Linked DNA regions of Homo sapiens. The protein of the gene in region 1 interacts with the protein of each later gene in a pairwise test. Each region holds a gene or a part of one and is shown in the gene's direction. Other genes may lie near its edges.

Region 1 (7,031 bases):
TTATGTTTGAAATGTCTAAAATTAGGAAAAAAGAGATCTCTGCTTTTCAGTTAATCTCCTTGGAGGACTCAGAGTAGATCTGGGAGCTGAAGCAGTCCTGGACATTAGTCTTCTCCAAACACTGTTGTGTTTGCTGTCACAGTTTTGTTGTAGTTTTGCAGTATTTTCATTTATTTAACAGGTTTCCTTCCAAATTTCAAATATTTCTGTGATGAGTCATGTTGCCACCAGATGGCAGTGATAGCTCATGAATATGTTCCTATTCATGGATGTGGGTGTGGCTTATTTATAAAAATCTCACCCCTCGGTGAAGAGCTGCACTTAGACAACATGAATTCAAGAAGATAATTTTATGGAACACATTTTAAAATGAAATAAGCACCTGAAAAGTATTATAGTATAGTGGATAAAAGCACGGGCTCTGGACCAAGACTGCAAGGGAATGAATCCTGGCTCTTTCACCTTCTAGGCTTGCAACTTCAGAGAAGTCCCTTACCCTCCCTTTCAACATCTATAAAGTGGGGAAAATCGTAGCAACTACTCAACTTCCCGACAGGGTTGTTGTGAGGGTTAAAGGAGTTAATATAGAGAGAGTGCTTAGAATAATGCCTGGCAAGTAGTAAGCACAGCGTAAGTGTCATTATCATTATTATTAGGTATAATTTAGCATCTCTCAGTAATCGGTCATGATTACCTCCTTGTTCCAACTTCAACTTGATACGAAGACTTTAATTAGAATATTCCTGCCTGATTTGTCTGGAGATCCAGCTTATGGTCAGTAGTCCTTCTTAAAAGTTAGTCCTTAATTCAGGTTTATGGAACAAGCCCTTTCAGGCTTGCTTGTTTCAGCAACCAGCTCTAACGACCCTGGCAAGAGGGAGTCTGTTTTGTACTTGTTTTCACATTAATCAAAGAGAAGGCTGCAATGTACCTTCACGGTTCTCTTAATTAATTCCTGTAACTCAAGGTACCTCCTCAGCTCTCTTCCTGCAGCACTGAAGAAAGACCAGCAAGAGTGTTCTGAGCAAGCCTCAGAACACTCAGAGTAAATGACAAGAGTGTTCTTGTCTTGCCGTTGGTTTTGTTACTTTCTTTTTGATTAATGTGGAAACCAGTACAAAAAAGACTCACTGGAGTTTTCTCTAATCAGAGGGAGGAGGTTTCCCACTCTGCTCAGGAGTATAATATCATCCACTCTTCTCATTAACTTTTTATCAGAGATCTTGCTACCTAGTTGTAACTTGCAAGCGACATTCGGCACTCTTCTCTTGACAGTGCGCACTGCAGACCTCTCATATTTAGATCTGTTTTCTGAAAGAGCATGTGTCCTTTTCCTCAGACTACTCTAATCAAAATCTAATCAAGGTTTTTAAGCAGAAGAGATAAAGTGGCTCCATGGCACTGACTTAAGTATCCACCTTGGCCACTTGCCCCTGCTCCGCTCATTCTGTTCCATTCAGTAATAAAAATTTTCCCATCAGGCAATAAGAGGTCAGGTAGCACTTCTCACCGCTGGAACAAGGCTTTGGAGTTAGGGGTGTGGGTCCATTTGAAGGATGAAGCCAATTGTTTTGACTGATTTCAGTTTATCAGTCTGACCCACTCTAGCCTTGTGCTTATTTTCTAGCTCCTCGTCTTTGTGCTGCTGATTACATTCCTTTTTGCATTGTTTTCAGGTGGAGTTGGCATGAACTTAACAGCAGCAGATACTGTGATTTTTGTTGACAGTGACTTTAATCCTCAGAATGACTTGCAAGCAGCTGCCAGGGCTCATCGCATTGGCCAAAACAAGTAAGTGATTTTTTTCTGCTTCCTTGGCTTGCCCAGCAGCAGTTCTGGGTTGTGAAAAAGGTGAAGAATATAGTCCTGGTGACAGTCCCACACTGGGAGCTGAGAGACCACCAGGTTTTAGCTCATCTGTGCTATTGACTCCTAGGGTAGTATTGGGTGGGTCACATTATCAGTCCAGACTGACTTTATTAGAAGGAGTCAAATCAAACTGTGAAAGGATTAGAAGGAAACTTTAGAAGTCATTTAACTCATCCTTCTTGAGTTAGGGTCTGACTCAGTTAAAAAATGGGGTTATGGGGCTATGGAGCTAAGCTAAAAAAAAAAAAAAGAAAGATAGATGTTGCCCTTTGATCTGAGGATAATTTGATCTTCCAGATATTTTCCTTGGCTACAGATAAGGAATCCCAGTCATGGTTACCCCATCATTCTTTCTTTGACTGTCTGGAATGGTTCAGAGAGAATTTCAGGCGAGTTCTCTCTAACAAGTGCTCAGGACCAAATGAACCAATCTCCCTTTCATTGTACCCTGAATATGGTATTTGGTTTTGTTTGCTTTTAGATGTATTTACCTTGCATACTTTTGCCCAGCTTTGCACACCCTTATAGCACACTACCCTTGTTTGACTTATGTCCAGGTCTGTTAAAGTTATTCGGCTGATTGGTCGAGACACTGTGGAAGAAATAGTCTATAGGAAAGCAGCCTCCAAACTGCAGCTCACCAACATGATCATAGAAGGAGGCCATTTTACTCTGGGAGCCCAGAAACCCGCTGCCGATGCTGACCTCCAGGTATGATATGATATACTGTTCTTCACTTTGGAATATACCAATACCCTTTGTGGAGGAGAATGTAAATGAAAAGAACCAGCACTCACCCTCTCCCCAGCTACACATTTGTTCCTTGGCCTCCCTCACACCTGCCACAGTGCTGGCTGTGTGCAGGGTCTGTAGGAAGTAAGGATTAGTTCCAAGCCTCATCACTTCTTGGCTGTTTGGGTTTGAGCGGCTTTCTTAACTTCTTAGATCTACTCTTTTTGCATTTCTAAAAATAAAGACACCACAGGTTAGCTCAGAGGGCTGTTAAGAGAATTAGTTAAAATAAAGAACTCAATAACAATTAATTCTGTACTTCCACCTTAGTCCCAGAGCCTTTGATCAGTGACTTACATTACTTCATACTCAGAAGAGGGCGAATGAGATCAGGAATTCATAATTGTGCCTTAGAAAAAATGGGTGAAAGAACTAGAGGTAATTTATTTAAAGAAGGGAGTACTGGATGGGAGACAGACACTGGATTGGAAGATTTTAGAGCTCTCTTTTGGAAGAGGACTTAGAGTTACTCTGTAGCAGCCCTTGGGTTAAAATTAAAACTCATAATATTTCCTGGATGCTTTGTTTTTGCCCTAAGGATGAGGGGCTGGATGCAAAGAGACCAACTCCTAGGATACTAGAAAGATGCAGGTATGAAGGGAGTAATAAATGTCTGTCAAGGGCAGCATCAGTGGGAGAGTCTGGTGTGAGAAACATTGCAAAAGAAGGAAGGACAGGAGTTGGCTACTGTTTAGAGTTGGGTCTCAACAGTAGGGAGATAGAAAATTCAAAGATGGCTGTGAGGTTTTAGGCCCCTATGATGAGGAGAGAAGAAAGGAAAATAAGAAGTAGGGCAGAGTTTTAGGAAGATAAAGAGAATTTAGGCTTTAGTCAGAGTGTGCAGTAAAAATACAATATAAACAAACTATTGTTAGAGGCAGACTCAGACAAAAGGAAAGAATTTTATTTGTAAAAGTTTGCAAGATGGACTAGGATTGGAAAGGACTAGTCCATCAAAAAACATAAGTGTTTAAGAGAGAAAAAGTGACACAATATTAGAAGCAGAGTTACTAAGTTTGTAATTAGTCTGAAAAAACAGCAGTTTTCTTACATGGTTACCGTATCTGCAAAGGCCAGTGCATATCTTTACATATCAGTGTTGCAAAAGACAGGGATCCTGTTGTTTTTGTTAGGGAGTTAGTAATTACAGGAAAGGCTCAAGGTTTTATTAATTTTGGGACTAGAACTAGAAAGAGTAACACTGGGTTTGTTCTTTGTTTATCTTAGGGGGTAGGTGTGGCTTTTTTCTTTTTCTGACTTTCCTTGTGTTGCTGACTGTGTCACATGCATGCTTAATTAACCATAATGGTGCTAGGGCAGGCTGTACATTTTGTTTTCACACTAAGAGACAATTATAAATGTGAGATGAAAGCTTGAGAGAGAGGTAGAGGTACGCTGTAGATACCCTTAAATGCAGTTTTCCACAGAAAAATTATCCATAGAACCTTAAGAGAGAGAAGGTCACTGCTGGGCATAGTGAAGGGGTAAATGACAGAGCCTCACAAGGCCCGCATTCTCTTGTTAGAGGAGGAAGGATGTCATAGGTTGTTTGCACTCTCCCAGTGGAGGGAGCGCCAGGGGTCCAATGAGGGGTATCTTGTGATGTGGGCTGCTGGACACATCACTGTGAAAGATGTAGACATACCTCCACCCCATGGGGCCACAAACGAGTGGGAACATGGACTGCTGGCTGAGAGCGACTCTGTTGGACTTCTTGCCCAGCTCATGGTTATCGGAAAGTTACTTTCTGACTCTAATGTCTGATTTATCTCTTCCCCATGCAGATGCTATGAGTTATTTGTGGTTACCAAAAGCAAAGGTGATAACCCAGAGCCCTTGTCTAAAAAGAAAGCAGGGGATTTTTGTTTGTTTTTGTTTTTTGGGTTTTTTTTTTTTTTTTTTTTTGAGACAGAGTCTCGTTCTGTTGCCAGGCTGGAGTGCAGTGGCGCGATCTCAGCTCACTGCAACCTCTGCCTCCCGGGTTCAAGCAATTCTCCTGCCTCAGCCTCCTGAGTAGCTGGGACTACAGGCGCGCACCACCACGCCTAGCTAATTTTTGCATTTTTAGTAGAGACGGGGTTTCACCATGTTGGCCAGACTGGTCTTGATCTCCTGACCTTGTGATCCGTCCACCTCGGCCTCCTAAAGTGCTGGGATTACAGGCATGAGCCACTGCGCCTGGGGGTATTTTTTTTTTTTTAAATACCAAGAAACCAAAAGTAAAAGATGTGGTTCTGATTTGGTAAATCTAAGCAGTAGGTATGGAGTTCTGAAGTCCTGAAAGAAGGAAACAGGTTTTTTATCCTGCAGGGAGGACACAGTAGAAACAGGCAGGCAGATGCAGGTGTAGTGAACACTTATTGGATACTGTGTGCTGAGTGTTGTCTGAGGTGCTCTTTTCCAGTTGTTTCAGTAAATAAGAATAACAGCAGGATGAGATAGACACTATCTTTATCCCCATCTTAAGTAATTTGCCCAAGGTTATTCAGATTTAGGATTCCAATCCAAGCACTCTCTAACCTCCGAGCACATGCCCTTAATTACTGTAATATACAGCTTCTCATAAAAACACATGTAATTTTCTTAATGACTAAGACACATTGCAAGTGAGCAATAACAAGGGAGAGCCAGGAGGTGAGCATAAGTACAAGGGGGTGAAAGGGAGGGTCCCAGTATGGACCAATTCTTATCATAAATAGTTGGCTTCCTACTATTTTTGGTACCAGCTGCCAAAGCCAGTCATCCTGGTTATGTGTATGGAGGGTAAATATAATATATCTAGGTACATTCATGCTTAAGTGAGCTGTCTATTGTTTCTTCAAGCTGTTACAGAATACCTTAACATTTCCAAGTTACTCACAAAATAGACGATCTGGAGATAACCCAGTCTAAAAGGGCAAGATGAGAACAAGGGCCCAAGGTTTGAATCCACCTTGGGTCAGGATCTCAGAATTAGTGCTTACGGAGGTGCAAAGTTGGAAGTAGCAAGTGAAAGCCAGGAAAAATTATCTGTGCTTTCTGCATGGTTCCTACAGCCATAGGGAATAGGCTGAGAGTACTCCAGAGAGGGACGAGAGAAGAGAAGCAGGATAGTGCAATGCCAGAGGAACATCCAGAAAAATTCAAACTGAGAAAAGGCCTTCGGGTCTGGTGGTCAGAAGTTGTTACTGATCTTTGCCAAGGTGGTTTCGATAGACCACTGTGTTAGGAAAACAAATTGCCAAAGAAAAGGAGTCAGTTCATGATAGAGGTAAAGTTCCTAGTGTAGCCTTCCCTTTCTAAGGAGTCTGGCAGTGGAGAGGTTGGAAAGTAGCTAACAGGGTCTCTGATCTCAAGTGGCTGCTGGGAATGCTTATGAAAAAGTCAGTGAGAGGTGCTGTAGAAAATGCAGGAAGTTACTATTATTCTTCAAAAAAATTGGAGGCTTATACATTTTTTTTGTTTTGTTTTTATGCAGAATTGTCAAAGTCAATACCTCTGATAATCATTTATCACCTCTCTGCTTACCCATCATCCAACTATTAAATGGCCCTGGCTGTTACTATCTATGATGGGGAGAGCAGAAAGGCTGCCTGTTCATTAGAGAAGGACTGTGCCTGGTGTCGTTAATCCACTTAGCCAATCACTGATATCCTAATGTTTCTTTTCATGAGAATTTGCTGGACTTTTTTGTTTCCTCTATTCAAGTTGAGTGAGATACTCAAATTTGGTTTGGATAAACTGCTGGCCTCTGAGGGGAGCACCATGGATGAAATAGACCTGGAGTCCATCCTGGGAGAAACAAAAGATGGCCAGTGGGTCTCTGATGCCTTGCCTGCAGCAGAAGGAGGGAGCAGAGATCAAGAGGAAGGAAGTAAGTTGGAGGTTAGAGCAGAGCAAATGGCACAACCACCCCAAGCTAGAGCTCACGTCCCCATGGAAAGTTTTGGATGCTGCTCTCTGGGGCATCTTTTTTCTCCCTTACCCTATTGTCATTTGGGCACACTGTTTAAGACTTGCTTGATAAAAGAACGTTACCCAAACTAACTGGAAATTTGTGTGGCTCTTCCCTTGTAGCTGAACTGTGAACCAAAATCATAGTATTAATGTTTATGATAGTATCAATCTTAAGGCTTTGAATTTGTACCTTTTCTCCCTTGGTTGCAAACATCTTCTTCTTTATTAGTAAAGCCTACCATCCTTGGTATGATGCTTTGCACATAGCGATTCCTCTTCTAAACAGTAGAATTACTTGTTTTTAAAATTGCAGCTAACATTAAGCATTTATTTTGCGTTCATCAACAGTGCGGACTTTGTCATGTGCTTTTTCCATTTAATTTCTGTAATCCATGAGATGTAGGAGATGGTTTTGTCTTTCTCTTAATTTTCTT
Region 2 (7,031 bases), on another chromosome or scaffold:
GTAGTAACAGAGCCTGAGATGGAGATTTTGTGCAAGTGACTCCTAGGGGCATTCCTGGGAGAAGAGTGTGAAGGAGGGAGGGAGAGAAGCAGGATGGGGCAGGACAAGGAGCTGAGCAAAGATGTGGTTTCAGGATTAGTCTAGCCTCAGCCTGATCCTATGGGTCACTTTGGAGTGAAAGGACAGAAATTGCTTAGAAGCAAAGGAGCTGGGCTATTGTACCCACTCTCCCCACCAACAGGTATTTTTAGTTGGTCATTAGCATGGACTGCCACTGATATTAATATAATCGGCAAGGCTTCTCCTGGTAAGGGGGCTCCCTTCAGTCAAGGGCAAGCCTTAGGAGAAGAAGCCAGGGGTGAGCTGTTAGCTACCAACATCCACCACACCTGGGGATGGGTGCAGGGTCAGGTGTGTGGATCTGGGCAGGCACTAATAGCATCTGTTGGAAGGACATACAGCTCTGTTGACAGGTCCAGGGGAGGAAAAAATAACTTTCTTTCCACTCTTAGTTCTTAGCTGTGATTAATTCTGTAATGAAAGACAGATTAATAAGATAAAAGCAAACAGAAGCTCATTAACACGTATATTTTACATATACATGGGAGATATCTAGGCAATTACTAAATCTCAAAGAAGTGGCTTGGAATTCCAGCGTATGTAGCATCTTCAACAAAAACCAGTAAATTTTTAGAGAAGTGACAAGACAAAGGAAAAGGACTTTGAGTCTCTAGGGGTAAAAAATTATGGGAAGGCAGATAGACAGTAGATAAAGGCTAGTTAGTAAAGCTTGTTAATGTAGATTCCTCTGGTGCCCTCTCCAGGCTGATAAGGGTCTGAAGTTGTCTTCAGTGATCAACCTTTGTCTTTCCTGGTAGAGAGGGGAAGAAGCCTTTCCTCTTGTTTAGTGACCAGTGAAAAGTAAATTTATGCCCTACTTTTAGGCAAATGGCAGGGGGAGGGGGCAGGTGGGAGGCGGTGACAGAGAACTACTTCTCCATTGCCTTCAGCTTAAAATAATCCTTATGCCAAAGTGGCACATTTTGGGGTGGCATATTCTGGTCTCCTACACAGGACATATCGCTGGGTGAGGAGGTAAAAAAATTATTTTTCCTTTGTGTTTTTCTGAATTCTAAAAGTTTTCTAACATTGAATCTATTTTTCATAACTAGAAAATATGAGTTAAATAAAATCCATGCAGCAAAATCACCTGGTTTGTTACAGATAGAAGTAACAGAAAATTACCTTATATTCCTAACCCCTTGGGGTGTCCTCTTGACCACACTGGACAGATGACCCCTGCTCATTGTTTGGCAAATGCCAATCCCCCAAGCTGGCCCTGGTTGTCACAGAGCTTCTCTGTTTCATCATACTCAGTAAGCCAGTGGCTTAGCACTTAGCTGGTTGTGTGACTCATAAATCAGGAATGCAACCAGTGTGGCTAATGGAGAGGGGCAAGAGGCGGGGATAGGCTGTGCCACCAATAATCAGTGCAATATGTGTGCAGGCATCGTTAGAACCTTTAGATATGGTCTCACTTAATCTTTACAATCGCCCCATGAAGGTGGCAGTATTATCTCCATTTAATAGATGAGGAAGTCTAGACTGGGGGGTTAAGAAACCAAAGTTGTAATTTTTGTTTGGCCACCAGTGAAAAATGAAAACTCTAGACCAAATGATGGATTTTTAAACTGTGTTTCTAGCAGCGCTTAGGCTTAGCAAAGATGCCGGGGATAGGAGGAGCTGCTGAGAGGGAAGGACTGGCCATCGGCACCTCAGTTATGGCAGCTCTGCCTTGGTCTGTTTTATGGGTTGGCAGGGATAGCTTCACGAATGTGCAGCCAGTGCAGCCTCACGGGGCCTGCTGGGCTCACAAGGGGCCCTGCGCTTAGGACCTAATGCTCTGCAGGCACCATCGTGAAATCCTTCATAATTTTGTCTTTTAATGTGTGTTTTATAAGTAAATCCAATGGACAATGGAGCGTGTCCCCGGGCTTGGAGCTGTAAATCATACTTGGCCCCACTTGCTGTTGCCTTTCTGCCTCCCTGGGATATATTCCCTGCTGCCTGCTCTTGATCCTGGTGCGTAAGGCCTCTCCTTGCTTCCCTGCTGCCCTCCTCATGGATCAGCAACTGGATTGCATTGGGAGAAGGGAGAAGGGAGCTGTGTTTCATGTCCTTCAACCCCCAGGAGGACCTGGCCATAGGCATAGGGAGGATTGGGGTCAGGTGTGCCCCTTGAAGTGTCTCAGGTATGACAAGGGAGTGGCCATCCCCATCCAGGCTGGCAGCATCATGGTGCATTCAGTGGATGGCTCAGTAGGGGCCTCTCACAGACCTTTGACCCGGGTACCAAGTCATGACGCACATAGAAAATGGCAACATCTGGAGGCTGGGTGTGGGGGCTCACACCTGTAATCCCAGCACTTTGGGAGGCCAAGGCGGGTGGATCACTTGAGGCCAGGAGTTTGAGACCAGCCTAACCAACACAGTGAGACTCCATCTCCATTTAAAATACAAAAATTAGCTGGGTGTGGTAGCGCATGCCTGTAGTCCCAGCTACTCAGGAGGCTGTGGCAGTTCAGTTGCTTGAACCCAGGAGGCAGAGGCTGCAGTGAGTTGAGATCATGCCACTGCACTCCACCCTGGGCAACAGAGCGAGACTCCATCTGAAAAAAAACAAGGCAACATCTGTATGGCACACTGGGGGAGACAGCAAGCAAAGGGAGCCCTGGCCAGCCTTGACTCCCATTCAGCAGCCCCAAGGGCTGAAGGCAGTTCTACCCTAGGCTTAGGAAATGGAGTCTCTACCTTGGTCTTGTGCTTCAGACACCCCTTGCCCCTTTCACCCCATGAGCCCCACCCTTCCCACAGGCTGAGTTATCCAGAGGCCAAGGGGACGTATCTACCAAAGCCTCAGCCCTCCTTCAGAATTCATTGCTTTTATTCCCCCAGTCCATTACAGACAAATATATGGTCTTACTTTGTGTGATTAATACACAACTCACCCCACTTGTGACTCACCCCATGAGTTTAAAAGCACTCAACTTAGTTTGCACCCTGCTCAATCAGTAAGTTCAACTAGACAAGTCTGCCTTTGGATGTTCTGGCAATGTCAAATTGCTATAGAAATTTGTAAATGCTTGCAATCAGTTCTTATATGTATCCCACAGCAGACAGTAACAACAGTTTGGTCCCTGGAGGACACTGAGTAGCACTATTCTAGGCTCTTCTGTGGGTGCTGGGACCCTGGAATCCAGTCTGAATGACACCAAATCCAAATCCACACCAAGCCTGCTTCCAGAGTCTTTATGGGCCTGTTTTCCTGATCTCTTCTGCAGGTGTACACTGCCCTAGCCCCAGGCTGTTTGCAGGGAGGAGTGGGCAGAGATGAGACATGTGTACTGTGGTGTTCATACACATGCATCTCAGGCCCCTTTAGGTACAGGATGGAGAAAAGGTGGGAATGGGAAGAGCAGGGGCAGGCTGTAATTGGTGGAGGAAGGAAGCCACAAGGATTTGGGACAAGCCTAGCTGCAGGAATCCATTTCTCTGTTCACCTTGAATCCATCACAGCACCCCAATGTGCTGAGGCCTGCCAGTCAGGGAGCTCTGGACCAGATACTTTCCACTGTGACTTTCAATGTTTTGAATTCTGATTTCTATCCCATGGTCACAGTTGAAAGCTCATTAGCATTTGGCACAGCAAGTGGGTGACACACAGATAGGTGTCCTGTGGACACTGCCATCTCACTGTGTGGGAACTGCAGTCTTAGCAACTCTGCCAGTCAACACCCTCCCGCCCTTGATATACAAAAATACACTGCGCTTCTGATGCCTGCCCCATGGCAAATAATTTCTCAACACCCAGGGAAAGGATTTTGTTTGTTTTTCTTTACGTTTGATTAAAAGCAAGCCCAGGCAAATACCCCAAAGGAAAGAGAAACAAATGACTTTACAATTAAAATATAAACCTACACAATTAGTCATTAGGCATATAAATAATATAACATCTTTAGTAAATCAAGAAGCATTAATCCAAGCAATGAGATACTTTATTTTTCCTCTTAAATTGACAAAGATGAAAACCAGAAAAGAAAATATTCAGTATTTGTCAGGATTTAGGGAATATTGCTGTCTTATATACTGTTGGCAGATGGTCAACAGAAGACAGACTTGTAGAGGTAAATTTGAAAATATATTGCAGAAGACTTAAAAATGTGTATATCCTTTGAAATCTTGAAAACATTGTTTCATAGTCTTCTTATGAAACAATGTTTTCATAAGATGAATGAAAAGTTGATGTCTGTCTCACTCTTGATTTTTTTTTCCTCTTCTTAAGCTGTTCTTGATATCACTGATGTTCTGAAACTTCACTAAGGTCTGTCTTAGGTTGGGCTTCTCTTGCCAAGTATTTGGTAGCCTACTTCAAATTGAGGTTTCACATCTTTCTTTGGTTCTAAGAAATCTTTATTATTTCTGTGAATATTGCTTCCCCTCAATCTTCTCTAGCCTCTCATCTACAACTCTTATTAGATCAAGGCTTAATTTACTGGATTTCTATCCTGCATTTCCTAATAATGTTCAGCCCTCTGTGCTACCATGGAGAATTCCTTGGCCTGCCCTTTCAGCTCACGAAACTGCTCTTTCTGTCTATCGTGTTATTCAGCTTCTCTATTGAGGGTTTTTTCTTTCAACATTTAAGATTATTATTTCAAATATCTCTGATTGAACATTTTTGGGTAACTCGTCCTCATTTTGTGGTTATATTATCTCCATTTTTCTGAGCAGATTGACTATACTTATTGAAAATTCTTTTCTGAATACCATATTAACTCCATTTCTTTTGGGGATCTCCATTGCAGAGTTAGTTGTCTCTTTTTTGTGGTGTTGGCCTTCCTCAAATGTTTGCTCATTCTTGTTTTTGTACTGATTTTTGTAACTGAAGTTTCCTGCTAGAATGTCATCTGCATCTATTTGAGAGAGCCACTTGGAGAGCAGGGATGGGAACTACTATTGGCCTAACTCTTGGCACTATTTTCAAAATACCAGTCTTCTTAACCTGGGTTTTTCTTTCTCGCAGGTGTCTCCAGCTCCTGAGAGCACTGCCCTTCTCTCTAGTCCCTGCCCCATACAGACTCCTCTATTGTTGCTGACTGGCCTCAGCAGGTGGAAGAGTAGAAAGTCCGGGCTACCTTGCTGCTTCTTGCCTCCCTGTAACTATGGCAGAAACTCTGTCAGCTTCTGACATCATACTTGGCATTCCCTGTCATGCTTCCTGGGCCACCTTTTCTCTTTCCAATAAGATTCTGTTCATCCTTTATTAACTCCTCAGTGTAGTCCTCTCCCTTTTCAGTGAGGCTATTTATTTAAACTTCTATCATTTCTTGGCATTTGTTGTAAAAGGCACACATACTCAGTCCAACACTTTGAGCTGGAGCTATTAAAAAAAATCTCTGTATTGGCCAAGCATGTTATCTCATGCCTGTAATCTCAGCACTTTAGAAGACTTAGGTGGGAGGATTGCTCAAGGCCAGGAGTTCAAGACCAGCCTGGGCAACATAGTGAGACCCTGTCTCTACAAAAAAATATACAAAAATTAGCTGGGCATGGTGACACGTGCCTTTAGTCCCAGCTACTTGGAAAGCTGAGGTGAGAGGATCGCTTGAGCCCAAGAGTTTGAGACTGCAGCAAACTATGATCATGCCACTACACTCCAGCCTAGGCAACAGAGTGAGACCATCTCTCTAAAAAACAAAACAAAATAAAAACCCAACATTTATATAACCTTCAAGCCAGTAATCCCACTTCTAGGAATTTATCCCAAGGAAGTAATTTAAAATAAAACTTTAACCACAAGGTGTTTCATCACAGTAGGATTTATTATGAAAATGTGGAAACAAATATCCAAGCAAAGGGGATTAGGTAAATAAATGATGACATAGACATGTGAAAAATAACATGGCAGAATATTTAATGGTATAGAAAAAAGTCATCAAGGTATCATTAAGTAAAAATTTCAGGTTACAGAATTGTTTTAAAATCTCCTTTTTGTAAAAAGCATATATGTTCTTATAGAAAAGGGTAGCTCTGCATGGTGGGATTTCTGGCAACTTTTGTTTTTTCATTTTGACTATCTGTTTCTCCACCATTTTGGGATTGTTTGCAACATCTGCCATGTGCAAGCTTCTGGTTCCATCCTCTGCTTACCTCCCCCAGGCATGCTGGAAGATGGACTGCCCTCCAATGGTGTGCCCCGATCTACAGCCCCAGGTGGAATACCCAACCCAGAGAAGAAGACGAACTGTGAGACCCAGTGCCCAAATCCCCAGAGCCTCAGCTCAGGCCCTCTGACCCAGAAACAGAATGGCCTTCAGACCACAGAGGTAGGGTTGCAGCCACAGAATCAACTGGGGACTGGAGAATGGGGGTAGGGCTTGCTTCAGGGCAGAGCCACCCAGCCGCTATGTCCAGGGAGGGACCAGGGATGGCTCATCTTGGAAAAAAAAAGTCTCTGCCCCACCCATGTAAAAATTGCTGCAAACCCCACCCCAAAACCCTGCCTTGAGGGTTGCTGCTTTTTGTTTCCATGTGTATGTTTGCTTAAGTACAGCTTTATTCAAGGATCTTGTTTTCTGTGGCCACTGTCACCATGTTGATGGTGAGGACTGTGCTGGTTAGAGGAACCAGTCTTAGGCCAGGCAGCTGGCCAGTCTCAGGGGTTGGCAGGGTGGGGAGTGGGCAGAGGAAGGAAAGAGAAGACCAGAGTGGTTGGAAACAAGCCTCGCATTTTACTCAGGCCCTCCAACCAGGTGGACATTGGAAGGGCCCCCAAGGGTGGCTCTCATAGCAGAATGTGGTGACAGCATCATCCCCAGACTGTTGGAAGAGGCAGGTCAGTGATGTCCCAGGACGTGGCGGGTATCCTTTCTTTTCTCCCAGAGCTATTGTTGGGAAGATCCTCTTATGGGTACAGGAGGGGCAGCCCAGAATGAGCGCTCTTAGTAGGCAGGGCTCAGGCATCTGCAGTC

The links. Proteins that work in one complex are often made in the same cells at the same time.
Region 2: the proteins of CHD1L (region 1) and BAALC interact in a two-hybrid assay, tested with the Homo sapiens proteins (one study listed by BioGRID).

The regions. Positions count from the first base shown.
Region 1 is NC_000001.11:147,273,678-147,280,708, forward strand, and holds part of CHD1L (chromodomain-helicase-DNA-binding protein 1-like), read left to right. Parts: intron 1-1,676; coding exon 1,677-1,791; intron 1,792-2,426; coding exon 2,427-2,580; intron 2,581-6,348; coding exon 6,349-6,514; intron 6,515-7,031. UniProt on the Homo sapiens protein: ATP-dependent chromatin remodeler that mediates chromatin-remodeling following DNA damage.
Region 2 is NC_000008.11:103,206,700-103,213,730, forward strand, and holds part of BAALC (brain and acute leukemia cytoplasmic protein), read left to right. Parts: intron 1-6,219; coding exon 6,220-6,386; intron 6,387-7,031. UniProt on the Homo sapiens protein: May play a synaptic role at the postsynaptic lipid rafts possibly through interaction with CAMK2A.